2 separate regions of the Homo sapiens genome follow, and region 1 is linked to region 2. Evidence: fine-mapped expression QTL. A gene starts in region 2. The other region holds a variant in brackets. All regions are shown on one strand. Distances are between the middles of the regions. Region 1 holds the start of LOC124901713 (a long non-coding RNA gene). Region 2 holds the start of FBXL13 (F-box and leucine rich repeat protein 13).

Region 1 (15,829 bases), 380 kb after region 2:
TTTGCTCCAGCCCTAGAATCAGCCATTTCTTGGAGGATCCCTAGTTCCTGTTACTGGAGAATGATATTTGGAAACTAAGATATTAATGCTGAGCATGGTCATTGATCCTAGAATGTCATAGCTTCTAGCCCCTCTCAGTGGACAGAGCTAGGAAACAGATTCATGAATATTTATATCCACACAAATTTAAATCTATTTCTACATCTATCTTTATATATTTTTTAGTCTAACTTTTATTTTAGATACAGGGCATACATGTACAGGTTTTGTACATGGGCATATTGCATCCAGGTGGTAAGCCTAGTACCCAGTAGGTAGTTTTTCAACCCACACTCCCCTTCCTCCCTCCACTCTCTAGTAGTCTGCAGTGTCTGTTATTCTCATGTTTTTGTCCATGTGTGCTCAGTGTATAGCTCCCACTTATAAATGAGAATATGCAGTGTCTGGTTTTCTTTTCCTGCATTAATTCACTCAGGATTATGGTCTCCAGCTCTTCTATGTCTCTGTGAAGGACATGATTTCATCCTCCTATATGGTTGCATAGTATTCTGTGGTGTATATATATAACACACTTTCTTTATCCAATCCCCCACTGATGGGCCACTAGATTGATTCCACATCTTTGTTATTAATAGTGTGGTGATGAATGTATGAATGCATGTGTCTTTTTGGTAGAATGATCTATTTTCCTTTGGTTTTATACCCAGTAATGGGATTGCTGGGTTGAATGGTAGCTCTGTTTTAAGTTATTTGAGAAATCTCCAAACTGCTTTCCACAGTGGCTGAACTAAACTAAAGAGCCTCTTCACAGCAAAAGAAACCATCAACAGAGTAAACAGACAATCTACAGAATGGGAGAAAATATTTGCAAACTGCATCTGAGAAAGGTCTGATATCCGGAATCTATAAGGAACTTAGACAAATCAACAAGCAAAAAACAAATAACCCCATTTTAAAAATAGGCAAAGGACATGAACAGACGTTTCTCAAAAGAAGACATACATGTGGCCAACAAAAGTAGGAAAAAGTGCTCAGCATCACTAATTATCAGAGAAATACAAGTCAAAACCACAATGAGATATTATCTCCCACCAGTCAGAATGACTATTATTAAAAAGTCAAAAACAATGGATGCTGGCAAAGGTATGGAGAAAAAGAAATGCTTATCTTTGTATTTTTAAAACCATGATTTCCTTCCTCTAATCTTAAATTTTAAGTGAAGAGTTCACATTTCTGTCAAAATCCATCATATGTCGAACTTTGCAATAGAATTTCTACTTCTCCACCACTACCCTTAATAATCAAATCAAAAATAAGGCTAAACTTGTGTCATACATTTGTTTGATATAGTAGCTACCAAAGACGTTGACTCAACATACACTTATGATGTAAGGTCATGCATTTTTAGGTCTGACATAAGTTGTTTGAAACCCAATCATACCTGATCTTTGTACTAGTTAAAATAACTCCTCCCCGTGTGGTGGAGATATAGCCCACTTGTTTCTCATCCTGCTAATCCCAAACCCAAAACACCCCACAGCTGCTAACCGTGATAAAACCTAATGATCAACACCAGAGTCATATAAATAAGTTTCCCCCTTCTGGCGTGTTTTCCTTAAACCAGCCAATCCACAACTCCTGTTAGAAGACCGGAGGGATAATACCCATATACCTTAATAAAGGTGAACTCCCACAGCTGCTCTCTCACTCCCTACCCACTGCTGAGCTCCCTGCCACCTCCAGACTTATCTGCGCTCCCCATCAGCACCCCTAAGCTGTCAGATCTGTAAGTAATAAATTTCTTCTGTTTCATGCGTTTGGTTTCACCTTCTCATTGTTGTCATTGTATCTCACCTGACTCACACACAGGAACCTGACGGCCTGCCCGTCAGGGCTCTTCTAAAAAGCAGCTATCTTGGCTTGTAGCCACTCTTCACAGAGTGACCTTAAGACCAGTTTATAAAGAAGCCATAACAGTAAAAATCACAACAACTTGAGTTTATTTGTAGCAAAAGTTATGCTAATAGTAAAGATTATCTTCAAGGTTTTCTAAGCCAAAGATTAAGGTTTGTTTTGCAAAATTAAAGAACTTAGGACAACTTCTCATGCATGTTGATCCTCAATCTAACAATAAATATTTCAAGAATCTCTCAATATACATGGATGCATAATTTATAGTTATTAATCGCTGGGTATAACAGGCCTCTGATAATTATATCCAAGAGCTTTCAATAATAGTTTCAAAGAACTGTGCTACGTACACTTTTGAGTAGTATCAATATCAGCAATTTTACTGCCTGAGAACTCCTCCTCAAAGCAGTGACAAATTGCAAACTTTCGGAATATTCAGAATTATTGGCTTGAGAAAACTTTATTTCCATAACAACACCACTAAGATATTGTTCCTAATTGGCATCTGTAAATTTATTTTCTAATTCTTTTAGGATTACTCTAAAATTTATGGGTCTCACAAGTTTTTAACATACTGTGTATAACCTACTTTATATTCCTTCAGTTGTCTTTGTCTTTTAACCTCTTTGTCTTCCTTCAGTTGTTTAAACAGAAACTGTATCTGCAAAAATGGCAAAAGTGCAGATGACAACTGAAGGAAAGCAGTCAAATCCACTTCCAAGGGTCCAGTTGCTTGGCATAACATTGGAAAACACAGAAACTGCTTATATCATTCATTGTTATTAATGCTAGTTGCACAGTTGTCCCAGCACTGCCAAGTTGCAATGCATGGTTGTCATGCTCTCGTCTCATATTGCCTGAAGAGTGTGTTCAGTATGACATTCACAGGCCTCTGCAATTTATACCCAAACTACTTTTACAATCTAGTCATTCACTTAGATTCTCAAGAGCTACTCTTTATGTTGTTCCGCTCAGCAGGGACTCTCCCATATTTAGAAGGAATAACGTCAGATGTCTAAGGAAACTGGCATAAATTCAAAATACATGATGTAAGATCATGGCTATCCACCAATCTGCCTAGTCGTATTGCCTCCATTGCTTTTAAGCTGTGCCATACATACTAAAAAACCAAACAAAATGCTTGCATAGACTGCACTTTGCAACCCCTGGGTCTGTTCCTAACCTTTGAGATCCTGGCTCAAATCTCTTGTCCTTCAGGGAACTGCCTGAGTAGCCAGCTCACAGGGGTTTCTCCAACCTCTCAACTCTTCCCACATCACTTGACTAATCAGCATAAAATATTTTGCATAGGAAATGTAGAGTTCCATTGAGAACACATGGACACAGAGAGGGGAACAACACACACCAGGGCCTGTTTGGGGGTTGGGGGCTGAGGGGAGGGAAATTAGAGACAGGTCAATAGGGGCAGCAAACCACCATGGCACACGTAGACCTATGGAACAAACCTGCACATTCTGCACACTTATCCCTTTATTTTTTTTAAGAAGAAAAAGAAAATTTAGAGTTCCCCACTGACATTATGATCACATTAAGACCTATGATCGCAATAAGACCTAACAGGGCAGGAACTACACTGTGTTAATTCACTCCTTGGAATGAATGTTCAAAGTGATGCTTGGGGCTGGGCGCAGTGGCTCATGCCTGTAATTGCAGCATTTTGGGAGGCTGAGGTGAGCGGATCACCTGAGGTCAGGGGTTCCAGACCAGCCTGGCCAACATGGCGAAACCCCGTCTCTACTAAAAATACAAAAATTAGCCAGGTGTGGTGGTGCATGCCTGTAATCCCAGCTACTCAGGAGGCTGAGGCAGGAGAATTGCTTGAACCTGGGAGGCAGAGGTTGCAGTGAGCCCAGATCACACCATTGCGCTCCAGTCTGGGCAACAAGTGAAACTGCGTCTCAAAAACAAAAGTGATTAAGTGATGTTTGGAAACCAAGCCACACAACTCCCATCAATGGGTTGTGTGGGTTAATGTAGGACACCTGCTCCCCAAATTGGCCATTGCTGCGTAACTATGAGGCCTGGTACTCCAGACTTTTTTTTGTCCTATTGGATATTTAATCCTGTCCCATTTTCTTTATATTGTTAATTTTTATTTAAGGTATAACATATAGAGTAAACCTCACAAATATTAAGTGTACAGATCAGGTTTTTTATGTATGCTTATAACCAACATGTCCATAACTGAATTTGTCATTCTTCTCCCAATCATCTGTATTCTCTTTGTCAGTTTGAGAGTTAAATATCTCCTTTAAATATGTATCTCATTGATTTATCTCTTCTCCCACCATATTCTCAGTCTGATCAGGATCTACTTCCAGGAACCTGAGGTCTCCCTTGAGACCTTCCCAGTCATTGCTCCCACCCAAGATAACCACTCTACTGGCTTATCATATATTAGTTTGTCTCTTCTTGAACATCATTTAAATGGAGTCATACAGTATGTTTTTCTTTGTGTCTGGCTGCTTTTGCTCACTTTTATAGTTGTGAGGTTCATTAATAGCATTATGCGTGGTGGTAGTTCCATTTCTTTTTTTATTGCTTCTTAGTATCCTGATGATACAGGACAGTCAAGCCCCCAAATTGAGGCTTGCCCTTGAGAGGGTTGTGATGTTAAACAGCAACTTTTATTGAAGTGGCAGTGAACTGCAGCAGCAGAGGTTCTGATCCTTGTGGAGCAGGGATACCCCATAGGCAGTGTACCTGGAATAGGAGCTCAGAGGCAGTTCTGCACTCAAATTTATATCCACTTTTAATTAGATGCAAATTAAGGACTGGTTTATGCAGAAATTTCTAGAATGAGGTTGGTAACTTGCAGGTTGTCGGGTTGATGCCATGGAAAGGGGCAGTAACTTCCTGATGTTACCATGGCAACAGTAAACTAACATGGCACACTGGTGTCTAATGGGGGAGGTGCTTCTGCCTCAGACCTCTTTTAGCTAGTCCTCAATTTGGTGTGATGTCCAAGCCCCACCTCCAAAGTCGAGTTCTGCCTCCTACCTCACTACTGTGTAAATATACCATAATTTGTTGATCCATTCTATTTTGTTTATAAAAATGGATTATTTCCTGTTTTGAAGATAATGAATAAAGTTCTGTGATCATTCTTATGCATGCCTTGTACTTAAGAATGAACTTATCTTGGGTATATACACAGGAGTGGGGTTAATCTGTCATAGTCTAGGTTTATATTCAGCTTTAGTAAAGACCTTCAATCAGTTTTCCAAAGAGGTTGAACCAGCATACACTCCAATGGGTATTATGTTAGATGCTGTCACATGTCCAGGGTTAATACAAGTGATAGCTTTCACGGTATTCCCTAGTTAGGATTTCTACTTCTATCTGTATGTGCTTATGTAAAACAGCACTGATTTATAAATGTGGCCTCACTTGTCAAGGGTCAGTGTGTCAGATGCTGAACTTTTCCACGACTTGGAGGCCGTAAAATCATTTTTGTCTTAATGCTGTGAGCCAAAATCAAAACATTAAATTATTTCGCCTAAGCGAAATAATTGGCTCTTTGCTTTTTACCAAGAGCCAGGCATCTCCTCCCTTCTCTTTATTTCCTGAAAATAATTATTGTTCCAATCATTGTTAAGTAAGTCTTTGACCTGACTTAGCCAAGGGGTGGAAAAAAGGAGGCATAGGAGCATTGCATTTGGGAGGCATAAAAGGGAGAACAAACATTGTAGGGAAACACCGAGGAAGTAAAACTACGAATCAAAATAGAATATGAAACTAAAAGTAGAGTGTGGATGTGTACCAATCATCATGGGCAATGATGAAGATGGATTAAGTTTGTTAATATATGACCTTTTCACGAAAACAGGTTATATATAAAACTATGAGTGGTTGTACTTCTTACAAAATATGTAATAGCAGCATTTGTGTCCAAGTTTCAGTTGCATGTCAGATTTGGTGAGTATTAAGATGTCAAGAACCTTGTGAACAATAATTTTGGACATTAAGTCTTAATCTATTTAAAAGATAAAAGATACAGCATTCACTATGTGCCAGGCACTGTGCTAGATGTTTATAATTATTATTACTAAAGCTACTGAAATTCATCCCTTCAACTCCTCCTTGGTTTTGAGCACCTCCTGTGTGCTGGATTATGCTAGATACCATGAGAATTTATGGACATAAAGCATAAAAAGGTTCCTATTCTTTAGAAGCATTATTTGTGAACAAGAAGATTGAAATATTAAATGTCAACAAAAGGCATATGATTTTGGACCCAGAGGATACAAGCAGTGTTATCAGAAGGGAAAGGGAGGCTTGACTGCTGTGGGATGAGACGGTCTAGAAAGGCTTTTAAGGCAGTAAGACATGAAAGGGGATATTGCATCCATATACACAGGGTCCACTATGAATCTGGTTTCTTTGCCCATACCCATGTATGCACATACTTGGAATATCTTCATGTAGATGACCCCAAAGTACCTCAAACTAAACATACTCACAACTAAATCCATTATCCTTCTCCGGAACCGAACTCTGCTCCTGGGTTCTGTCAGTTGGTTCTCTCTTGTTAATATCTCTTGAATTTGTGTTTTCCATTCCTACCATCTCACCAGTTAGAATGCCGTTTCAGTGATGAAGATGTGAAGAGAGACTGCACAGTGGCATTGGCAATGAGGAAAAAAGGAGTGAATACATTTAGGAGAGATGTTAAGGAAGTATAAAATTCTATAGACTTAGTGTCTGAGTGGATGGAGTGGGTGAGGAAAAGATTCTAAATTGATGCTTGGCATTCTGATTTAGGAAATCAGCCAAATTATGGCACCATACATGAGAGTTCAGAAGAAGCAACAGGTCTGAAGGGAATGTCCAGTATGTGGATCTGAGCCTATGGGGGAAGTCTCTGGCCAGAGGTGTAGTAGACACGGTAGGTTGTTGATATAGTAATCAGAATGCTTTCTGAAAGAATTGCAACTTGATACCTATGTATATTTAACAACACGGTCTACCACTGTGTATTTAAAAAAAGATGCTGCCATTGTTTACCTAATTTCATACTTGTAAAATTATCTTTTTTTATGAGGATATTCACATATTCAAAAGATGCTTTATTTTCTATATATTTTGTTCTCTTAAGGCTGGTACCAGATAAATAAATGTTGGTTTTTTAAATAAATTTCTTTGATGTAAAGTCTGTCTCTGTTGCCCAGACTGAAGTGCAGTGACACAATCTCAGCTCACTGCAACTTCTACCTTCTGGGCTCAAGCAATCCTCCCACCTCAGCCCCTGGAGTAGCTGGGACCACAGACACATAACACCAGGCCTGGCTGATTTTTGTATTTTATGTAGAGATAGAGTTTCACCATGTTGTCCAGGCTGGTCTCAAACTCCCGGGCTCAAGTGATCTACCCACCTCGGCCTCTCAAAATGCTGGGATTACAGGTGTAAACCCCTGCACCTGGCCTAAAATTAAACTAAAGTTTTAATTACTGAAAGTATCGGTGATTTGCTGACGCTACTAAAGCTTCATTTATTTTGTAGGTTGGACCTTCTATAGAGTTACTAATGAGCTTCTTGAGATAATCCCTAATGACATTTCAATTTTTTTCGAGGAATTAAATATTTTCTATTTTTTTATACCTTAAGTAACTGGTTATAAAGGGGAAAAGATAAGAACCCCACCCTCAAGGAGCTTACGAAGTAGTTTCAAGTATGTAAACTTACTTTTCAGAATGATTCTGTAATAGGAGGTTTGAGATATTGCTATTTCCATCTTAAAGATTCTGGAAGATTGAGACTCGCCCTGGGTTACACATCGGGGTGGAATTTGGAACCCAATCTTCCGTTTCCTGCTTCAGCG[C/T]GCATTTCACTTGACATTCACACATTTAAACACTGCTATTTTAGGTTTTACAATTTGACTTTTAAAGTAGACTGTGTATTAAAACAAAGATAACTATGTACACTCTGTTTAAATATTTCTAGTATGTTTCCCCATCCTCTCCTTAGTTATCACCCCTCACTAACAGCTGTACTTATAGGCTGTGCTTTAAAAAATGACCAATTTTCTTTTATAAACCTTCCTGCAAATCTTGCTATTATTGACATGTTTTCGCTTTTCCTTCAGACATCTAGGCACCCTTGCAAGAATAATAATTTTTCAAGATTTTCCTTGGCTGTCAAGAATCTTCAAAGAGACGGATAGTTTATTGAACAGTACAGATAGGTTCTATTGTTCCCATATTTTTGTTATTATTGTTTTTACTCTGACAGTGGGGTGGAAATTTAAAAACTTTTCCAGTATGGAAGAAGACCTTGTAATGCACTTAAATATTTGAGATATCAACATAACTAAATCCATTTACAAAGATTGAATATTGATGCTAAGATTATAAGAATACAGGCCATATTCCACTTTGCAAAGTAGATTAATACCCCTCAATTCAGTTAAATGGTACACTGCAGAAGAGGTCAGGGTAAGAGGAAAGAAGGCACTGTGTTAGGATGTCCTCCTCTTGGCATCTTTAAAATGACAAACATGGAGATTGATTTTGGCCAGGAATCTGGGGTATTGTCAGAACAACTCTATTTGAACAAGCTGTGCTTAGTGGTAAGAGGGAGTCAGAAGGATGTTGAAAAGGGGACAGAGAAGAAGAAAGATAAAGAAAAATTGGTCCTTTACCTCCTCACATACAATCTGTGAGATTATCTTCCTTAACTCATTCTGAAAAATCTTTCCTGAGCATCTACAATATGCCAAACCCAAGGCTAGGAATGGGAGGAAAACGCAGCAGTGGCCCTACCCTCAGTGGCCCATCTGTCCCTCTGTTTGTGTGGTTTATTTGCCTCTCTTCTCCTTTATCCTTTTCTAGTTCTTTACTGACATAATGAGATCCTAGTTTGTATGTGTATGTGCATGTGTTTAATTACATAGTTAATACATTTTAATCACCTCTTTATTTTTCATTGATTGTTAACTACTGTTGTAGCAACTTGATTAAATATTAAAAATAATAATCTAAACTTTGATACTGGCTTTCTAAATAGTCGCTGAACGGATGTTGCTCTTCAAAATAAGTACTAGGAGAAATAATAGTATTTTCTCCTTTGAGAGAAGGTTGGCTTTGGAAAGCTCGTGGCTCTTAGGTGAATGTGCATCTTGTAAAACAGTCTCTTTAGTAATGCAATCACTATTTTAATACATTGGGGACTAAAGATGGAAGCTTAAGGATTAAAATAAAATACCTTTTTCAACAAAAAATGTATTAATATATAGGTAGAGAGAGGGTACTGTTGTCTGTTGGGTAGATTCCTTGGCAAATAAACAGAAGGGAGTAGGATTGGGAATTTGTCCATCTGGTAACCAGACTTACAGGTAAATCAGTAAAATGAGTTAGCAGGAGTCAACCCAGTAAAGTTAGCTAAGACAAGACAATTACTAAAGTTTTCATTAGGCAAGCAAGATCAGGTTCTCAATGGTCAAGCAGTGAGATGCAAGCCAGACTAGGAAGTTAAGGAACAGAGTATCAGGGAATCATAAGAAAATTGTAATAAAATTTATTCAGCCATGGGGCTAGTTTTATTTATATAAAGCTATTTTAATATATAAAATATATACATAGTACAAAATCCAGAAGGTGCAGAATAGTAAACAACGAAAAGTCAGCCTTCTACCCCATTATACAATCTAAACTCCCCCTCCCAAGAGACAACCATAATTAACAATCTTTTATATAGCCTTGTAGAACATCTATGCACAAAGAAGTAAGTCGTAGTATAATATACACACTGTTTTTTTCACATATTTATACAATTTTTATTTTTTCAATGTATAGTATTTCAAGGCATGAATGGAACATGCTTTTTAAAACTAGTTCCTTATTATGAGACATTTAGGTCATTTCCAATCATCTGCTATTACAGATAATGATAGAGTGACTAACTTTATACATGCATCATTTAATACTGGAGTAGTCACTGAGCTTCAGAGAGAGCGACAGAGGGGGCTGGGACTTCGACTCCAGTGTTCTATCTCCATATTCAGAGCCCTTTAAGGTTAAGAATGTGGCTGGGCATAGTGGCTCATGCCTGTAATTGCAGCACTTTGGGAGGCTGAGGCGGGCGGATCACTTAAGGTCAGGAGTTCGAGACCAGCCTGGCCAACATGGCGAAACCCCATCTCTACTAAAAATACAAAAATTAGCCTGGCATGGTGGTGGGCACCTGTAATCCCAGCTACTGGGGAGGCTGAGGCAGGAGACTCACTTGAACCAGGAGCCAGAGGTTGTAGTGAGCTCACGCCACTGCACTCTAGCCTGGGCCCCGTGCTAGACTCCGTGCCCCGCACCCCCCCCCAAAGAGAATGTGTGTGTGATTAAAATTTAAGTTAGAGACAGTCTCACTATGTTGCCCAGGCTGGTCTCAAACTCCTGGCCTCAAGTGATCCTCCTGCCTTGGCCTCCCAAAGTGCTAGGATTACAAGGGCTAAGAATTCTAGTCATTCATTCACTCACTCATTCATTCATTCATGAATAAACAGTTTGCCCTGCATGTGTACCTGGCCCCCTCCTGGGCGGATACGGCAGGCAAACGGTGCAAGGGCGGCTGCCGGGAGAAGGTGGGCAGCTGGAGTGGGACTGGGGGAGACAGGATCAATGTGACCTGCGGTGGTCCCCAGGTGGCCGGGATGCAGTACCTGCACGGCGTCCTGGGCCCCATCATCAACAAGGTGTTTGAGGAGAAGAAGTACGTGGAGCTGGACCCCAGCAAAGTGGAAGTTAAGGATGTAGGGTGAGGCCGGGGGTAACTCCGGGGGTTGCGGGGTGCAGCGGCAGCGGGTTGGGATCAGGCCCTGTCAGCATGTGTGTTTGTGCTTCTGCCCACCCGTGTATTGTCCCCTGTGTCCGTGTCCTGGCTGCTGTGAGAGCCACTGTTCCTGTCGTGGCCCTGGCGCTGACCGCGACCTCCTCTGCCAACCCGCCCCGTTCCACGCAGGTGCTCCAGGCTGCACCGCCCGCAGACCGAGGCCGAGGTGCTGGAGCAGAGCGCGCAGACGCTGCGCGCCCACCTGGGGGCCCTGCTGAGCGCGCTCAGCCGCTCGGTTCGCGCGTGCCCCGCCGTGGTGCGCGCCACCTTCCGCCAGCTCTTCCGGCGCGTGCGCGAGCGCTTCCCCGGCGCCCAGCACGAGGTGCGCCCTCCACCCGCTGGGCTAGGCTGGGCCGGGTTGGACTGGGCTGGGGCGAGGAGTGAAGAGCGGTGGGGAACCAGGGAGCGCTGGGGAGGACCAGGGAGGCTGTGTCGCAGCGAGGGTCAGGGACAGAGCCTAAGGGGAGGGGGCTGCCAGGAGCCCTGGTCTGGGGGACTCCAGCCCGCGCTCTTCCGCACCCCTCCAGAATGTACCGTTCATCGCCGTCACCAGCTTCCTGTGCCTGCGCTTCTTCTCCCCCGCCATCATGTCGCCCAAGCTCTTCCACCTGCGGGAGCGCCACGCGGACGCCCGCACCAGCCGCACCCTGCTCCTGTTGGCTAAGGTGCGGGCCTTGCGGCCACGGGCGGGATGCACAGCTGGGTGTCCTACCGGGGCCCTGGCCTGGACTGCAGAGTGTTCCCTACCGGCTCCGGCGAGGCCACTGGCACGCCCACGTAGGCACTGCACTTCACAGTTTGCAAAGCCTTCCTGTGGCCACCTTGTCCGAGCTCCATCTCATGGATAAGGGAACAGGCCTGCGAGGGGTCGGGGGTTGCCAAGGCCGCCCATCCTGTCGGTGGTGAATCGCGGGACCTTCCAACCCGGGTCTGCTTACTCTCAGGCTGCACCTATGTGCCCGGCACCGGGGTGGGGTATCCAGTGCAGCAGCGTCAGTTAAACCTACAGAGGAAGGCCCAAGTGGTCTCAGTTATCATAAGGCATCAAACTTCATGATCCTCTCCTCCCTGATCCCTAGTGGGGCTGGAGGGGGCCCGTGGGCATGGCCTCTGTCGCCTCTGCCTCCATCGCTACAGCTGAGTAGCAAAGACTTGGGGAGGGGGGGTGGGAGGGGGTGCAGTGGCTAGGCCCCTAACCTAGCAGAACCTGGTCCTTCCTGCTGTCACCTCCAGGCAGTCCAGAACGTGGGCAACATGGACACGCCGGCTTCCAGGGCCAAGGAGGCTTGGATGGAGCCGCTGCAGCCCACCGTGCGCCAGGGCGTGGCGCAGCTGAAGGACTTCATCACCAAGCTCGTGGACATCGAGGAGAAGGACGGTGAGCGCCGCCCTGCACAGACCCGCCCACAGCCTACTGCTGACGTTTGCTCCGCCCTTGAGCCCCACGGCCCCACCCATCGCTGTTTGTTCCTCTCGTGGCCCCACCCACCGCCTGCTGTTGGCATTTGCCAGGCCCCCAGGCCATAGACCCACGCACCACTGTTTGTGCTTCCTGTGACCCTGCCCACTGCCTGCCGTTGACGTTTGCCCCACCCCTAGACCCATGGCCTCACCCCCGCATCATCTGCGCCTGTTGACATTTGCTCCATCCTTGAGCTCCATAGCCCCGCCGCCACCTGCTACTGACGCGTGTCCCGCCTCCAAGCCCATGGCCCTGCCTTCCTCAGTCCACCTGTCACCCCGCTCACCACCAGCTGTTGATGTTTGCTCCGCCCTTGAGCCCCATGACTACGTCCACTGCCTGCTGTTCAGATTTGCTCAGCCCTTGAGCCCCATGGCCCCTCCCACTGCTCCGCTCCCCCCAGTCCCGCCCTCATTCACTGGGCTCTCTATTCCCCTCCCTCCCTGGCCTGGCAGAGCTGGACCTGCAGCGGACGCTGAGTTTGCAGGCGCCACCTGTGAAGGAGGGGCCACTCTTCATCCACAGGACCAAGGGCAAGGGCCCCCTCATGTCCTCCTCCTTCAAGAAGCTCTACTTCTCCCTCACTACCGAGGCCCTCAGCTTCGCGAAGACGCCCAGCTCCAAGGTGGGTAAGGAGGGAGGCCGGCAAGTGGGGCTCTGAGAGGCCGGCAAGTGGGGCACCTGTCCCCTTCCTTGGAGCCCACTTGAGGTACCCCTGGGGTCAGAGAAGAAAGCCAGGTGTGTGGCATCTGTACTGCTTGTCAGAACCTAGGAGGGCCGGGCACGGTGGCTCACGCCTGTAATCCCAGGACTTTGGGAGGCCAAGGCGGGTGGATCACTTGAGGTTAGGAGTTTGAGACCAGCCTGGCCAACATGGAGAAACCCCGTCTCTACTAAAAATACAAAAAATCAGCCGGGTGTGGTGGTGGGTGCCTGTAGTCCCAGCTACTTGGGGGGCTGAGGCAGGAGAATCACTTGAACCTGGGAGGTGGAGGTTGCAGTGAGCTGAGATCGAGCCACTGCACTCCAGCCTGGTGACAGAGCAAGACTCCATCTCAAAATAAATAAATTAATTAATTAGTAAATTAATTAAAGAGTGGTCAGGGAGGACCTCTGATGGGTGGCATTCGAGCAGGGACCTTGTAGGAGGGTGACCCAGATGTGTGTCTAGGGCAGGGACATGTGGGACAAGTAAGAAGCCTGCAGCTGGAGGGGGGTTGGTTTCTTCCGGGCTTGACCGTCCTGGCCTGTGGGGAGGAAGTCACAGACCTGTCCCTCTGTGCCCTTCCCTCTAGGAGTTCCCTTTTGTGTCAGGGTCCAGAGCCACTGGGAAAAGTAGTGATATCAGGGCCACCAAATATATTTGGCGGGTTCTGGAATACCTACGAGCGTGGCCAAGGGGCCAGCGGCGGCTGAAATCCAGCCCACACCAGCCTCCTGGGCTCCTACCATCCCGGTGCCTTCCGTGGGGACAAGTGGAGCTGCTGCCACCAAAAAGACGAGACAGGTGGGAGAGGAGAGGATGAAGTCTTGCTGTGTTGCCCAGGCTGGTCTTGAATTCCTGGGCTCAAGCGATCCTCCCACCTCGGCCCCCTATAATCCCAGCTGTAGTCCCAGCACTTTGGGAGGCTGAGGTGGGAGGATCACTGGAGGCCAGGAGTTTGAGAACAGCCTGGCCAATGTAGCAAGACCCCATCTCTAAAAAAAAGGAATTAGCCAGCCATGATGGCATTATAGGAGTGAGCCACTGGGATTATAGGAGTGAGCCACTGCACCTGCTCTCCAGGCCATGCGCCCGGGCATGGGTCATGTTCCACTGGAGGAAGGGCAGCTTCTCCTAATTCACTCAAAGCTGCTGGGTTGGTATGGTGGGGAACATGGCGTCTGGCGTGGTACAGGAGCTCCGGGTTAGGAGGGCTTCCTGGAGGAGGTGACGTCTGAACAGGCCTCCCCCTCCGTGTCCCCTGCAGTGTGTGAATGAGCTTAACCAGTGGCTGTCTGCGCTGTGGAAGGTGAGCATCAACAACACCGGACTGCTGGGCTCCTACCACCCTGGCGTCTTCCGTGGGGACAAGTGGAGCTGCTGCCACCAAAAAGAGAAGACAGGTGGGAGAGGAGGCCTGGGTCCCGGGCTCTGCATCCGTCCACTGCGAGATCGGGCCTCTGGCTGAACGATGGGACCCTGAGCCCTGCTGTGCACCTGCAGGGACCTAACCCAAGGAATGCTGGCCCCTCCAGGAGCTCTGGGCAGAAAGGGTCCCGTGGACCAGGTGGTTTGGGAAATGCCACGTGATGTGTGTGATGCATATGAGTGAATTCGCTGAAGGCTCTAAGGAGGCCCGAAAACACGTTAGAATCCCATTTCTTTTTATTTCTTCTTCTTCTTTTTTTTTTTTTTTTCAGACACAGACTTTCACTCTGTCCCCCAGACTGGAGTGCAATGGCACGATCTCAGCTCGCTGCAATCTCCACCTCCCAGGGTCAAGCAATTCTCCTGCCTCAACCTCCCCAGTAGCTGGGATGACCGGCACTCGCCACCAAGCCTAGCTAATTTTTTTGTATTTTGACTAGAGATGGGGTTTCACCATGTTAGTCAAGCTGCTCTTGTTTTGTTGTTGTTGTTGTTGTTGTTGTTGTTGTTGTTTGATACTGAGTCTCGCTCTATCATCCAGGCTGGAGTGCAGTGGTGCAATCTCGGCTCACTGCAATCTCCGTTTCCCAGGCTCAAGTGATTCTCCTGCCTCAGCCTCCCAAGTACTACAGGCGCAAGCCACTGCACCCAGCTAAGTTTTGTATTTTCAGTAAAGACGGGGTTTTACCATGTTGGCCAGGCTGGTCTTGAACTCCCGACCTCGTGATCTGCCCTCCTCGGCCTCCCAAAGTGCTGGGATTACAGGTGTGAGCCACCACGCCCGGCCTAGAATTCCATTTCTAACGTGGTTTAACCCAGCACTTCCCAAACTCTTTTGACAGGGAACCCTTCTCTTCCCCAAGGAGCTTCTTACAGAACAGGTGTTCTCAGGAACACATTCGAGGAGCCCCCTGCTAATGAGAGCCAGAGAGCCCCTGGGTTCGCACACTCCAATGCTGGCCATCTGAATCCGGAGCTGTGGGTGGGAGGGGACCCTGAGCCTTGGGCACTAGAGGGATGGCATAGAGGAGCTTCTAGAAGGACTCCATACTGTGTAGTACTCTAGGTTCTAGCACCTGTGGTTCTTGAGCACTTGAAATGTGGCTTGAGGAGCTGAGGGGTTTTTTTTGTTTAATTTTTTAAAACAGGGTCTTGCTCTGTTGCCCAGGCTGGAGTGCAGTGGCACGATCATAGCTCACTGCAGCCTCCAACTCCTGGGCTCAAGCAATCCTCCTGCCTCAGCCTCTGAGTAGGCTGGCACTACCGGCATGCATCACCACACCTGGCTCATTTAAAAAAAATTGTTTTAGAGGTGGGGTCTTGCTATGTTGTTCAGGCTGGTCTTGAATTCCCAGGCTCAAGCAATCCTCCTGCCTCGGCCTCCCAAAGTGCTGAGATTGTAGGAGTGAGCCACCACATCTGGCCTGAGTTTCACATTTTTAAAAATGTTGTTTTGGCCGGGTGTGGTGGCTCACGCCTG
Region 2 (15,829 bases):
GATTATGAAGGACTTTTATTTTCTACCCTGTACTCAACAGTACTTTTTTTTTTTTTTGCAATAAACAGGTATTATTTCTGTAACTAAAATAACTAAGTATATTGCTCAAAGAAGAATCACACACACACACACAAAAATAAATAAAGGGACAAGTATAGATTACACATGGGAAACAATATGTGGTACGTGATATATAATATGTGATGCCCTGAGGAAGCCAAATAAGAAATGTTAAGAAAATGTCACAGCTACAAAGCTAGAATATTCTCACTACCAAGTCTTAATCAGGACCTTTTACTTTTGAATACACTGTTGGCCTCATTAACACCTTATAAAATAGCGTTTCACCCAAAGAATACTTGAAAAGATAAAGGAAAGAATGATAAAAACACAACTTTTTAGAACGGAAAGAATTTGGGGTTCATCCAAACCTCTTATTTTACACAGGAAGAAACTGAAGCCAGGATTGTTCAAGGATCTGCCTAAAGTCACAGGGGTAGTTAGTAGCAGAAACCACAGAAATGAAAAATCAAAGTTACAAGTAAGTCACTTACTATTTTTGGGGGTCTCAGTTTTCTCATCTGCAAATAAAAGGGTTGGCTTAATACTGTAACTGGCTCCAGAGTTTCCTACACAGCCCTGAAGTTGTATGATTTCATATACACATGCATACATACACGTGCACATGCATGGCAGAAATGTGATAAATTTAACTCATCCATATTTGAGATATTTCAAAATCATACCACTCTATGTTATCTCATGAAGTCATTTTTAAAAAGCTTATAGACTGGGTGCAGTGGCTCACGCCTGTGAACCCAGCACTTTGGGAGGCTGAGGCGGGCAGATCACTTGAACTGAGGAGTCTGAGACCAGCCTGGCCAACATGGTGAAACCCCATCTCTACTAAAAACAGAAAAAAATTAGCCAGGCGTGGTGCAGGATGCCTTGTAATCCCAGGTACTCGGGAGGCCGAGGCGGGAAAATTGCTTGAGCCTGGGAGGCAGAGGTTGCAGTAAGCTGAGATTGCATCACTGCACTCCAGCTTGCGTGACAGTAATGAAACCTTGTTTTTGTTTTTGTTTTTAAAAAAGAGAAAGCTTATAGATGTATAAATTCTTTATAAATAGCCATTTAAAATTTTTCTAGGGATTAAATCACTAACGATAAAATTTCACGGTGTTGTATCACAGAATTCTCACTTGGTGGGAAGAGGCACAATGTGGTAGTTAAAACTAAGCCAAGGCTATGGGGTCAGGTTGTCTAGTTCAAATTCCCAAATAAGCTACTTACCAGGTAAGAGACTTAGGCTCTCTCAGCCTCAGTTTACTCATCTGCTAAGTGGGAGTTAATAGTGCCTACCTCAAAGCACTTTTGTACCTAGAATATTTAAAGTGACTAGTATATTATTTTCATTAATGGGACACATAGCTGATTAATAATAGCAAAAGTGGCTTTAGAATCCAGATCTTTTTACTCCTACATTACTCTTTCCTCTCAACCATTATTCCTCCTAGTATATTAATATAATGAGCCTAGCTGAATGCGGTGGCTCACACCTGTAATCCCAGCACTCTGGGAGGCTGAGATGGGCGGATCACGAGGTTAGGAGTGCAAGACCAGCTTGGCCAAGATGCTGAAACCCTGTCTCTACTAAAAATACAAAAATTAGCCAGGCATGGTGGCACATGCCTGTAATCTCAGCTACTCCGGAGGCTGAGGTAGAAGAATTGCTTGAACCTGGGCGGCAGAGGTTGCAGTGAGCCGAGATCCCACCACTGCACTCCAGCCTGGGCAACAGAGCAAGACTCCATCTCAAAAAATAAATGAATAAATAAAAAATAAAATAATGAGCCTATACTTTAATTCTATATATTCTCTTTGAATTTCTAATAAAAACCATTTATCGGCCCAGCACGGTGGCTCACACCTGTAATCCCACCACTTTGGGAGGCCAAGGCAGGCAGATAAGCTGAGGTCAGGAGTTCGAGACCAGCCTGGCCAAGATGGTGAAACCCCGTCTCTACTAAAAGTACAAAAATTAGCCAGCAGTGGTGGCACATGCCTGTAGTCCCAGCTACTCGGGTGGCCGAGGTAGAAGCATCACTTGAACCTGGGAGGCAGAGGTTGCAGTGAGCTGAGATCGCACCACAGCACTCCAGCCTGGGCGACAGAGCAACACTCCATCTCAAAACAACAAAACAAAACAAAAACCATGTATAACTTTTTAGTAAAGAAATGTAAAACTTAAAACTCTAAAAATTTTACAGGAGGGCGATCATCAAATACTCAGCTCTTCCACTGGTGAGTTTTTGGACTGCTATTACACAGGTGAGGAGTCAAACATGTGTTCTACTTTCCATCTAGCTCTGTGCCAACAAGACTGTGAAAGAATCTTAGGCTCGGTGGTTTGTGGTCTCCTCCAGTAAATCAAGGAGAAATTAGAATTCTCAAAGGGAATGAAAAGTGACTACCACATTATAACGTAGCAAGACAAATTTCAAGATAACTGTCATGGTTCAGAATCTTTCCAACTGGGAACACAATATGCCTGTTTATGTAGTCTTAGGCCCTTCAGTAAAATTATCTTCTCACTACAGGAACTCCTAGTTTTTAAAGTGAATTCCTAATTTTTAAAGTTTTTATAGCTATCATGAATGATATATATTTTTTGAAACAGGGTCTCATTCTGTCAAATAAAATATTTTCAATTAAAATTTTGAATTGTTACTGCATGTATACAAGAAGTTATTGATTTGGGTATATTTACTTGTACTCAAGATATTTTATTAAACTCATTGCTTCTAGTAGTTAGTTAATTCTCTTGGATTTTTCCAAGTAAATCATTATGCCACCTACGATTATAATTCTGCCTCCAATATTTATGCATGTTGTTTTCTTATCAAGCTATGACTCCAGAAGAACGTTGAATAGTAGCTGTGATAGCAGACACCCTTCTCTTGTTCTTGAGTTTGATAAGGATGCTACTAACTAGTGTGTCTATTAAATACGATATTTGCTTTTGGGTTTTGATGGATGTACTTGATCAACTTAAGAACATTTCCTTCTATTTATTCCTTACTTGCTGCAAGTTTTTATCAGAAATGATAAAATTTTTTTTCTTTTTTTTTCCCCGAGCTTCAGCTATGGAAAGAAATATTTTAATGCCTTTTTATTATGAGGTCATCATGTGGCTTTTCCTTTTTCTAGTATGACTCCTCCTTCCATGTCCATTTGGCCTTGGTATATTATTACTTTAATCCCCTGATAGATTTGACTTGCTAATATTTTAAGATTTTTATATCTTTATTCATAGTTGAGACAGATTTATAGTTTTTCTTACCATCCTTGTCAGGTTATGACGTTAGATTGTTGGATGAATTGGGACTGTTTCCGTCTTTTTCAATGCTCTCAAACCACGTTAGTACAAAAATTATTTTATTTTTTATTTTTTAAGACAGAGTCTTGCTCTTTTGTCCAGGCTGGAGAGCAGCGGCACAATCACAGCTTACTGCAGCCTTGACCTCCTGGGCTCAAGGGTTTCTCCCAAAACAGCCTCCTGAGTAGCTGGGACTACAAGTGCACACTACCATGCCTGGCTAATTTTTCTATTTTTTGTAGAGATGGGGTTTCACTATGTTGCCCAGCCTGGTTTTGAACTCTGGGCTCAAGCGATTCTTCCACCTCAGCCTCCCAAAGGGATTAGAGGTGTGAGTTTAAAACAAAGAAAAGATCGCCACTGCACTCCAGCCTGGGCAACAGAGCAAGACTCCGTCTCAAAAAAAAACAAAAACAAAACAAACAAAAAACAAAAGATCATCTTCTGAAATCTAAGCGTGATGATGACTTTATTAGTCCATTCTCATGCTGCTATGAAGAACTGCCCGAGACTGGGTAATTTATAAAGGAAAGAGGTTTAATTGATTCACAGTTCCACATGGCTGGGGAGGCCTCAGGAAACTTACAATCATGGTGGAAGGGGAAGCAAACACTTCCTTCTTCATAGGCAGCAGGAAAGAGAAGGAGTGCAGAGCAAAGGGGGAAGCCCCTAATAAAACCATCAGATCTCCTGAGAACTATCACGAGAAGAGCATGGAGGGGAGGGGAACTGCCCCCGTGATTCAATTACCTTCCACCGGGTCCCTCCCACGATGTAGGGATTATGGGATTACAATTCAAGATAACATTTGGGCCGGGCACAGTGGCTGATGCCTGTAATTCCAGCACTTTGGGAGGCTAAGGCAGGCACATCACCTGGCCAACATGGTGAAACCCTGTCTCTACTAAAAATACAAAAAAAATTCGCCAGGCACATGGTGTGTACCTGTCATCTCAGCTACTCCGGAGGCCGAGGCAAGAGAATCGCTTGAACCCATGAGGTGGCGGTTGCAGTGAGCTGAGATCATGCCACTGCACTCCAGCCTGGGAGACAGAGTGCGACTCCGTCTCAAAAAAAAAGAAAAAGATGAGATTTGGGTGGGGACACAAAGCCAAACCATATTGATGATGAAATGAGCATTTCTCAAGTCTTCTTCAATGATAAAGGAGTAGCTTCAGGAAGAAGGGACTGTGAGCAAATTATTTTTTAAGCTGCCTTACCTAAGATAATGATGATTATGGGAACTGTTAAGTTTAAAAGACTGTCCACATTCATCAGATTGAGTCAGTATAACTGAGAAGATATCTGAGTCCAGGACACCTTCCCAATGTACTTATACAAAAATATCTCTGACATGGGCAAAGACAACAAATTAGGCTTTGTAAATGCTATGATTTGAATGTCTCCTGCGAAACTCATGTCGAAACTTAATTCCCAATGTGGCAGTATTGAGAGGTAAGGCCTTTAAGAGGTGACTGGATCATGAGGGGTCTGTCCTCATGAATGAATTAATCCATTCATGGATTAATGAGCAGGACTGGTGGCTTTATAAGAACAAGAGACCTGAGTCAGCATGTTAACACACTTGCCCCTCTGGCCTTGGGATGCCCTATGCCACAACAAGAAAGCCCTTACCAGCTACGGCCCCTCAATCTTGGACTTCTCAGCTTCCATAACTCTAAGAAATAAATTTCTTTCCTAATAAATTACCCAGTTTCAGATATTCTATTATAAGCAACAGAAAATGGACTAATACAGTAAGGGTACATACAAATCTTTAAAAAAAAAAAGCTGAATTATACCTAGTGGCAAAAGTGAGAGAGACCTTCCCCTTCCACTCCCTTTTTCTTAAAGCATTCCCTCGTGCAAACTTGTAATTAAAAATCCTTTATTGGCCAGGTGAGGAGGCTCAATCCTGTAATTCCAGCACTTCGGGATGCTGAGGCAGGAGCACTGCTTAAGCCAAGTTCAAATCAGCCTGGGCAACATGGTGAAAACTCATCTCCTAAAAAATTGGAAAAATTAGCCAGGTGTCGGTGTGCACCTGTAGTCCTAGTTACTTAGTGGGGTGAGGTGGGAGGAGCCCAGGGAAGTGGAGGCTGCAGCTGTGATTGCGCCGCTGCAGCTGTGATTGCGCCACTGCACCGAGCCTGGGTGACAGAGGGAGTCCCTGTCTGAAAACAAAACAAAACTCCTTTTTCTGCTTCTTTGATACAAATGTAAATCTTTTTGTTTGTTTTTTGTTTTTTGAGACAGAATCTTGCTCTGTCGCACAAGCTGGAGTGCAATGGTGCAATCTTGGCACACTGCAACCTCTGCCTCCTGGGTTCAAGTGATTCTCCTGCCTCAGCCTCCTGAGTAGCTGGGATTACAGGCACCCACCGCCAAGCCCGGCTAATTTTTGTATTTTTAGTAGAGATGGGGCTTCCCCATGTTGGTCAAGCTGGTCTTGAACTCCTGACCACATGATCCGCCTGCCTTGGCCTCCCAGAGTGCTGGGATTACAGGTGTGAGCCACCACACCCAGCCTGTAAATCTTTTTAAAAGTGAAATAAGCATTTGGCCAGTTTTACAGCCCAAGAAAGACTTTCTTAAAAGCTTTGGAGCCTACTGTTCGAAAGCGTACTCTTTGAAACCTACTCTTCCAGGAAGATAGATCCCCAATCTCCCCAACTCTGTGAGTTTTTAGCCTGGGCACCTGGTTCCACATCATAAAGATATTTTTATTTTTCCTCTGGATAAAGGCAATTAGATAACAACCACCCCAATTACCAGTAAATTCAGGATAAACTACATGTAGCAAATGGTACTGTCAAGTCCTCTTACCTAAGGACAAATTATTTTTTATCTTGAGAACACGTATGTAATATGAAATCGGTTCTATCTGTCCAGCTACATTTAAAGGAATTAGAATTCTTCCTGCTATCCCATTAGCAAATTGCCCGTGATGTGTGAGGCAATTTAGTTTGTGCTTATTCAACAATGAAGCTGTTTAGCTCTCTTCTACAATTGTGGACAGGAGTTTCTTGGATGGCAGATATGATATTTTAAATTATTTCCCTAACAGCTTCCATGATGTGAAACATGCCTTTGGAGGGTTTTAATGTACCGATCAACTTTTGGACAGAAACCGAATCATGCATTTGTCCGCTGGGAGGGTGTGTCTCGCGCAGACAACTGTTCCCATTTCCAAAACACACACCAGGCTGCGAGGTCTTGGACCACTGTGACTCCCAGGTACCTCCCGTCTGAGGCCGGGCCGAGCGCCCGCACAACTGACCCTCTGACGTCCCTTCTTCCAGGGCACCTGCAAGCAGAGATTGACCTATGGCTCTGGGCCCCTCAACAGCCCTTCCACAATCGGGAGAATCCCTTTAGTTACACAAAGGCCCGGAGCAAGCTTTAAAATGAGAGGCCATCAACAGGTTTTTAAGAAATCTAATCCTCCGCTGTGACGCGGAGCTCAGGCAGGAAAGCCAGGGCAAGTTTTCATACCAGTATAGTCAGCAAAGGGGCGGCGGGGGCGGCGCAGCACCCTGCACTCACACAAGTACTGCCTCTCCCTCTAGCTCGGCTCCTCATTTTACCCCGAGCACACGCAAGCCACCACCCCGGCCTGGGGAGCCCCCCTGCCCAGTCCCCGCCCACCTGCCGGAAACCCCGGGGTCCCACCTGCGGACTTCGAAGAGCGTATCCCGAGCTCGCGGTCGCCCCGCCGCCGACCCCGGGTCAGCCTGTAAATGCAGTAGCAGGCGCCCGCGCCGAGCAGCAGGCCCGCCGCCACCCAGCCCGCGCCCCGGGGGCCACCCATGCTGCCGCCGCGGCAGAGCCGCAGCGCCGGGCCAGGGCAGGAGGCTCGCGGGGGCCAGCGCGGAGGTCTCCAGCGCACGCGGGCCTAGCCGCCACAGCAAACGCCACCTGACCTGGATGTGGAGAAAGGAAATGGGGTCTGAGCTCCGCCTCCCGGAAACGGCCTAGCTCAAAGCCTATAACCGCCCACTCCAGCCCGGCGCGTCCCGGCGGCTTCTCCCAGGCGAGGCGGGGCGGTGCGGGGCGCTGCACACCGGGAGGGGGGGGTCGGACGGTGCGCCCCACGCGGAGACGCCGGGGCCCGCAACCCAGAGCCGAGCTTCCCGTCTCTTCCCCCGGGGCGTGAAGCAACCATTCCTCCCTCCCGCCCCTGGCAGCGGAGCGCGGGGCGGTGCCACGCCCAGCCCCGCCCCCTGGTTGCCGGGACAACGCCCGCACGCGCCCGGCCCCTAGTCCCAGCGCGGGGAGGGTACTATCGCAGCTTCTCCGTCAGGCCTTGGGCCATGGCCTCGCTACGCAATGCCAACCCGAGGCTGAAGAACTACTTCAAGGAGAACTACATTCCTCAGGTCTGCGAGGTACTGGACACGCGTGGCAGCGGACACAGACCGTCGGTGGGGAGTTAGAAGGGGGAGGAGTCAGGAAAGACTTCCCGGAGGAGGGACTAGGTTTCGGGATTGGGGAGGAGTGGAGGGAAGGCGGGGCAGAATGCGAGAAAGTGAAGTCAAATTCGGACTTGTAGGCGATCAGGGCTGAAGACGCTGATTAGAGAGAAAACAGAGGGTGATGGTGGCTGCACGTGGGGAATGGGTGACATCTCCCAGGGGGAATGAGCACAAGGCCCAGATCGGAAACCCCAAACTCAGATTTTAAGGTTTGGACAAGAAGTACCTGAGGAGTGGAGGAGTGAGAAAGAAGTGCCAGAGAGCCTGAGGAGGAAAATCAGCAGACTGGCATTATGAAGAATGTTGTCAGAAGTAGGGAGTAGGCACTAGTCACCTAAGATAAGGAGCTGGATTCTGCCCAAGGTGAGCCTGAGGTTTCCATGGAGCCGTGAGGGCAGAAAATAGATGGAGGTTAGCGGAGGGAAGAGTGGAAGCTGAGACCTTTGGTCAGTGTAGTCAGCCCTTTGTGAAGGTAAGGACCCTCTCAACCAGGATTGCCTTTAGACAACAGGAAGGACTGCCCTCCTACTGCCGTTATAAGAGTAGGGAAGGAAGACAGGAAGGGGATAGACATTAGGTTTTGTAGGTTTGGGGGTAGGAAGCTGAGAACATTTGCCTTTGTTGACCTCTTTTTTTCTCTACAAATAGTTGGTGAGATATTTACCAAGAATGTGCGTGTTTGAGTGGGGATGGGGATGTTGGTGCAGTAGGAGGTTCGAGCAAAGATACGTTATGTGGAGAATGAGGGAGAGAGATGTCTAGGGAAAGAAAGAGGAGGTCCTACCTGAGGGTAGTAACGCTCCTAGGCGGTTGGGAGGGCAATTTGGTAGAGACCCCCCACCCGTCTCTTTTTTGGATGGTAATTGAGAAATATTTATTAAGATGTTAAATACATGTACCCTTTAACCAAGCATTTCTACTTCTAGGGATCTACTTTAGAGAAATACTTGCACATGTGTTCAGGAGGATGTACAAGGATATTCATTATAACTTTGTTTCATAGTAAAAATAGTAAATGACCTAGAGTGACTAAGCGAATGAGGCATTATGTAGAATAAAGTATATCTGTACCTACTAAGAAGAAATGTCCTCCAAGACATATTATTATTATCATCATTATTATTGAGACACGGGGTGTTGGTCTGCCACCCAGGCTAGGGTGTAGTGGCTCCATCCTAGCTCACTGCAGCCTCAAACTCCTGGGCTCAATTGATCCTCCCACCTCATCCTCCCAAGTAGCTAGGACTACAGGCATACACCACATGGCTGGCTCCCAACACATATTATTAAGTAAAAAAGAAAAAGTGCAAGTTGCTTAGCAACTGTCCATTCTGCTCTAGCTGTCCATTTGATTTCATATATGTTGTATATGTGTTTATGTACATATATGTGTATATATCTAGCTTTAAGACAATAGTGCATGCATAGAACCTATGCCAAACTGTTAATAACAGATGTCTTGTGGAATGGTTTTGGGGGAAAAGATGGAGAATTCTAACTTTTTACTCTGTCCATAGCTGTATTGTTTTAATTTATTACAGTGAGTTTTGTGTTGTACCTCTATACAATTGTGCTTGAAAATATGTAGGGAGAATGGTACCCATCTTCCCGGTTGTGTGATTTTCTCAAGTAGCAGTCAGTAAATCAGATGTAGGTACAGAGATAACCAAGTTGACTTCGTCTGGGATAGGAATTTGCCAGGCATATATTAATAGAATGGAAAGGCAGTAGGTTAGGGAGCTAAGCTCCTGAGTATCTGAAGTGATGGGCCAAGGACTCTAAGGACTCAGTGGGAAATGAGAAAAGGATATCATACTGATACATGGACAGAAAGTGAAGACTCCTCTAAGAGGTGAGTGAAGAGAAGTAGAGGGAGTAATTAAGTGAGGGAGCTGGAAACACAGGAGGTGGGGGTCAGAAAGTGGAACGTTTATATTTACAATTCAGGGTGCAGCCATTCTGAGTGATGGCTCAGTCTGTGATATGGCGGTGGAGCAGGTGGCAGAAATGGACTTGAGTTGAGAGTCAGGGTACATCAAGGAAGGGATGGCCTCTTCTCATCTAGGCCGCCAGTTACTATAACATCACAAAGCTGCAATGAGGCAGTCCCCAGTTCCCCCTCTGGGTGAAAGCATTCCTTCCTTACCAGCTTACTGCATTGTTCTGCACCCATAGAGGAGGCCCTTATATGCATTCTCCATTGTCTAAGATCATGTTCTCCTGAGGAGTCCTTCACTCACCTCTGCTAGCACACTAGCAGGAAGTGCAAAGGAGCAATCCTCTGGGCCCCACACACCCACCTTAAACTCATTACCCATTTCTTCTAAGAGAATATCAAGATGAATTCCATTCTGCCTCATATCCTGTCTGTACATTTATTTATCTGACTCAATTTCCCAGATGGGTTTTATACTTTTTTTTTTTTTGAGACAGAGTCTAGCTCTGTCGCCCAGTCTAGAGTGCAGTGGTGCCATCTCAGCTCACTGCAACATCCGCCTCCTGGGTTCAAGCGATTCTCCTGCCTCAGCCTCCCAAATAGCTGGGACTACAGGCACCTGCCACCATGCTCAGCTAATTTTTGTATTTTTAGTCGAGACAGGGTTTCACCATGTTGGTCAGGCCGGTCTCGAACTCCTAACCTCAGGTGATCCACCCGCCTCAGCCTCCCAAAGTGCTGAGATTACAGGCATGACCCACCACAGCATGACCCACCATGTCTGGCAGGTTTTATACTTTTCTAAAACCCATCTTCTGCAAGCCTTGGAATACATAAATAACCTTTCATTAAAGTTTTCCCTGTATATTTAACCTCTTCTGAATTTCATCTACCTGTCCTAAATAAAACCTGATTTTCTACCTACAATATCATTTTCCTGCAAATCTCTTGAATAGAGACTGATTTTTTTAAAAATCAGGCCTGGCTTGGTGGTTCATGCCTGTAATCCCAGCACTGTGAGAGCCCAAGGCAGGTGGATTGCTTGCCAGGAGTTCAAGACCAGCCTCGGTAACATAGTGAGACCCTGTGTGTACAAAAATTAAAAAAAAAAAAAAAAAAAAGCTAACTTGTCTTAGTGGCTCACACCTGTAGTCCCTGCTACTCATGAGGCTGAGAGGAGAGGATCACTTGAGCCCAGGAATTTGAGGCTGCAGTGAACTATGATTGCACCACTGAACTCCAGCCTGGGTGATGGAGCAAGACCCTATCTCTAAAAAAATAAAAAATTAAAAAACATTTTAAACAATCCTGCTTGGTCCCCTGGGCTTACTGAATCTGTTGATAGATATTTTTCATCCGTTTTAGAAAATTCTTGGTTCTTTTCAAATAGTACTTCTATTCAGTTCTCTCTTTTCCTTTTGGAACTCCAATCGTACATATGTTAGCTTTTTTTTTCTTTTTCTTTACCTTGTTCTACATGCCTCTTTTGATCTCTTCTGCTTTTTCCCCATTTTCTTCTTTTTGAGCTCAAGTTTGGATCTTTTTCATTGATGGTTTTCAAGTTTACTAATTTTGTTTTATGCTGTGTCCAGTCTACTCTTAAATACATCAAATGAAATCTTAATTTTAGACATGTTTTTCAGTTCTAGAATGACAATTTGATGTTTAAATAAATTCTGATTATTAGAATTATGCATCTTTTCATTCAGTTTGCCTTTTTCTGTTTTCTTTATTTGTTCTCTCCAAATCTGTTAAAATTTGATCCCCAGTGTTGGAGGTGGGGCCCAGTGGGAGGTATTTGAGTCATGTGGGCAGATCCCTCAAGAATGGCTTTGTGCCCTCCCCTGTGATAATTAGTGAGTTCTCCCTCTATTAGTTCACCCAAGAGCTGGTTGTTTAGAAGAGCCTCCCTCTAGCTGTTTCTCTTACTCCTTCTCTTCCCATGTTACATGCTGGCTCCCTTTGCCTTCTGCAGTGAGTAAAAGCTTCCTGAGGCCTTCGCCAGAAGCCGAGCAGATGCTGGCACCATGCTTCTTGTACACCCTGCAGAACCCTGAGCCGCATACAACTCTTTTCTTTATAAATTACCTGGCCTCAGGTATTTCTTTATAGCCGTGCAAAATGGATCAACACACATGTTGATGGTTGTTATTTTAAAATTATTGTTTGTTGCTTATGCCTGTAATTCTAGCACTTTGGGAGGCCGAGGTGGGTGGATCACTTGAGGCCAGGAGTTCGAGACCAGCTGAAACCCTGTCTCTACTAAAAATACAAAAATTTGCCAGGTGTGGTGCACGCCTGTAATTCCAGCTATTTGGGAGGCTGAGGCATGAGAATCGCTTGAACCCAGGAGGCAGAGGTTGCAGTGAGCTGAGATCACACCATTACACTCCAGCCTGGGTGATGGAGTGAGACTGTGTCTCTAAAAAAATAAATAAATAAAATAAATACATAAAATTAAATCATTGTTTGTTAACTTGAATATCCAGATCATTTGTGGGTCTGCTTCTATTGCTTATTTTCTTCTGTTGATAATTCAAGACATTTTCCTGCCTTCATACATACCTAGTAATTTCTTTTTTTTTTTTTTTTTTGAGACAGAGTCTTGCACTGTCGCCCAGGCTGGAGTGCAGTGGCGGGATCTCGGCTCACTGCAAGCTCCGCCTCCTGGCTTCACGCCATTCTCCTGCCTCAGCCTCCCGAGTAGCTGGGACTACAGGCGCCTGCCACCATGCCCGGCTAATTTTTTTGTATTTTTAGTAGAGACGGGGTTTCACCGTGTTAGCCAGGATGGTCTCGATCTCCTGACCTCATGATCCACCTGCCTCGGCCTCCCAAAGTGCTGGGATTACAGGCGTGGGCCACCGCGCCCAGCCCATACCTAGTAATTTCTTATTTTTATTGGACATTGTGTGAGAAAAGAACAATAGAAGTTCCAGATGATATACTCTTTCGCCAGCAAAGGTTCGTCCTTTCCTCTGTATAGGGTACAGAGCTCATGACCTCAGTCCAGGAAGGGACTGATCTGTGTTGAGCTTGGACTGTGGATTTATTTGGGTTCGGTTTACATCTGGTTCATCCCTATTCCTCAGGCATAGCTCTTCTGGGCTTTTGATTGAGAAGCTAGCCAGTCTCTGTCTCCTCAGACTGAAAGATTGTGAGAGATTTGGTTCTGCTCTTCGGAGGTATTTAAGCTTAGCTCTTTAGTTTCCCTTCTAGGCCCTCAACTTTTATATATGTATATATATTCCCCAATTTAAAACTTTTAAAAGTAAACTTTAATATCAAAAATGCAAACTTGGGGAGGGCATAAAAATCACACACAAGGCTGCCACTTCACACTTCGAGGGTTGCACAACGGCCGGGCAAAGGCGCTCCTCACTTTCCAGATGGGGCGGCAACCAGGTAGAGGCGCTCCTCACTTCCCAGAAGGTGCAGCGGCTGGGCAGAGGCGCTCCTCTCTTCCCAGACTGTGGGGCAGCCAGGGAGAGGTGCGCCTTACTTCCCAGACAGTGGGGCGGCAGGGCAGAGGGCCTCCTCACTTCCCAGAGGGGGCGACAGCCAGGCAGAGGTGCTCCTCACTTCCCAGGTGGTGGGGCGGCCGGGCAGAGGTGCTCCTCACTTCCCAGACGGTGGGGCGGCCGGGCAGAGGCGCTCCTCACTTCCCAGATGGTGGGGCGGCTGGGCAGAGGTGCTCCTTACTTCCCAGATGGCGTGGTGGCCGTGGGCCCTCAACTTTAAAATCTGGCAAGTACATTGAAGGTTATGCTGGCTGTATGTTTGAGGCAGGCTTCCTCTTCCTTCCCTGAGATTATGAAAGACTCACTCTGCCTTGTAGGAGTTGATGTTCTAGCTCCTCAGCCTCCTGTGTGAACACTCCCAGAACTCACTGCCTTATGGGAGACAGTGGCCACACTTGGGGCACCTCAAGTTTCTAACCTGTCATGTTACCCCCGTGCCACCACCATAAGCCTATTGGTTTCTCTTCCCATTTGTAGACTTTCTCTGCCTGGGCCCAGCCCTGTCCTCTTTCCTACCCAGAGCTGGCACACGTTCCCAGGGAAAAAAAGCAGCTGTGCATTGTCAGCTCACTTCAGAAAAATTTCCTTCCCCTGGAATTCCATGGCTCGCCAATATCTTTTTTAAATGTGATTTTTGTAATGTGTCTGTTTTTTTCTAGTTGTTGTAGCAGGGTCATTGGACCATGGTGACTTTCCACATCCTACTCAGATATGAAATCCTAGGGAGACTGTCTTGTTTCACTCCTCAGTTTACCTCAGATCTAGAGATAGGTTAGGTGTCTTCCTTGGCTCCCCATTTCCACTTCCAAACTATGTATCTTCCCTCCTTTTTCTAAAGTCTCAGCTTCTTTGTAGTTCATAACATCAGATTTAGCACTCACTGTCTTCATTATGTACCAATCTCTATGTTTTGTTGGTAGCATTAGCATCTGGCTCACCATCTTCCTTTTTCTCTACTCCTGTCATTGTTCTTGTGCCCGCAGTATTCACAGGGATGTTCCGTTCACATCCTTGACCTTTCTTCCAGTTATCTTTGCTTTCACCGTTCCTCAGTCATGTCCTTCTATGGTCATACTCTTAACCATTTTATCCTAAATTGCTGTACCATCTCTGAAATCTCCATTTCTTCATCCACTTATCTCTTAATTTCTTAGCTCACTCACATTGGAGCTTCTACACTAGCACTTCTTCAACTGACTCAAACCACCATTTCATTCAATTATCTTTGCACTGTCAAATATTACTCTTATGTCCTTATTTCTCTCTTTACCCATCTTAGATTCCTTGGTTCATCATTATTGTGGATGTCTATTACCTAAATGTCTTTACAACATTTAGTGATTTAAAATAACAGTATTCATTTTATTATTGCCTCTCACAGTTATGGGAGTTGACAGAATATTATTGCTTGAGATCCCTCATGCACTTACATGTCAGAGTGGCTGAGGTTAAAATCATCTTGAAGGCTTCCTTACCTACATGCCTGGCAGTTGATGCTGGCTGTCGATGAGGACCTCTCCTGAGACTGACAGGTAGAACATCTATGTGTAACATCTCCATGTAGCTTGAGCTTCCTCACAGCGTGGAGGCTGGGTCCCAAAACAGGTGTCCAAGAGACAGAGCCAAGTAAAATCTCCTTTTATAACCTAGCCCCAGAAGTTACTCAACATCACTTTCACTGTATTCTCTTCATTACAAGTGGATTATTAAGACTAATCCATATTCAAGAGGAGAGGAATTAAACCCCACCTCTTTATGTAAGAAATATCATTTGCAGACATGCTTTTAAAATGCCACCACACCATCATTATGATCACTTTCAAATACGATTATCTCCTTTACCTGTTTCTCCCTCTGTCCTATTGATGTGACAAACACCCATCCCTGGTAAAACTCAAATATCCAGCAGTCCGTGCTTACCCCTGAGCAACTGAACATTATTTAAAGGAAGAACACACAATTAAACTGAATTGTGTCACTTTAAATTCAATCCTCAGTTGTCAAATGGGCTCTCAATATCCATAGTCCTACATTTCCTAGTATTTTCAGTTTCTGACAATTCCATTACACCCACAGTGAAAGAGTAGACAAAAAAAAAAAAATTCTTGGGAGGCCGAGGCGGGCAGATCACCTGAGGTTTGGAGTTCAAGACCAGCCTGACCAACATGGAGAAAGATCACTAAAAATACAAAATTAGCTGGGCGTGGTGGCGCATGCCTTTAATCCCAGCTACTCGAGTGGCTGAGGCAGGGGAGTCTCTTGAACCCAGGAGGCGAAGGTTGCGGTGAGCTGCGATCACGCCATTGCACTCCAGCCTGGGCAATGAGAGCGAAACTCCATCTCAAAAAAAAAAAAAAAAATCCTCACAAAATTCTTCCACTGAATATTAAAAAATCAATTGCATTTCAATTCACTAGAACCAAAGTTTTAAACAGTAGCTTTTAAAAATTACATTCATAGGCTGGGCGCAGTGGCTCACGCCTGTAATCCCAGCGCTTTGGGAGGCTGAGGCGGGTGG

The links.
Region 1: its variant is fine-mapped to the expression of FBXL13 in whole blood (TOPMed, PIP above 0.99).

What each region holds. Positions count from the first base shown.
Region 1 is chr7:102,685,209-102,701,037 of GRCh38, reverse strand. LOC124901713 (a long non-coding RNA gene) reads right to left here and starts at 12,051. Exons shown (of 2, transcript XR_007060461.1): 1 at 11,954-12,051; 2 at 9,429-11,759. It also overlaps the pseudogene RASA4DP. The variant C/T (reference allele first, on the strand shown) is at 7,755.
Region 2 is chr7:103,066,634-103,082,462 of GRCh38, reverse strand. It overlaps FBXL13 (F-box and leucine rich repeat protein 13), which reads left to right and starts at 7,667. Exons shown (of 21, transcript NM_001394494.2): 1 at 7,667-7,767. The coding sequence starts at 7,693. ARMC10 (armadillo repeat containing 10) reads right to left here and starts at 7,323. Exons shown (of 7, transcript NM_031905.5): 1 at 7,052-7,323; 2 at 6,582-6,686. The coding sequence starts at 7,190. RefSeq lists an enhancer at 6,577-6,626 and a silencer at 6,897-7,736.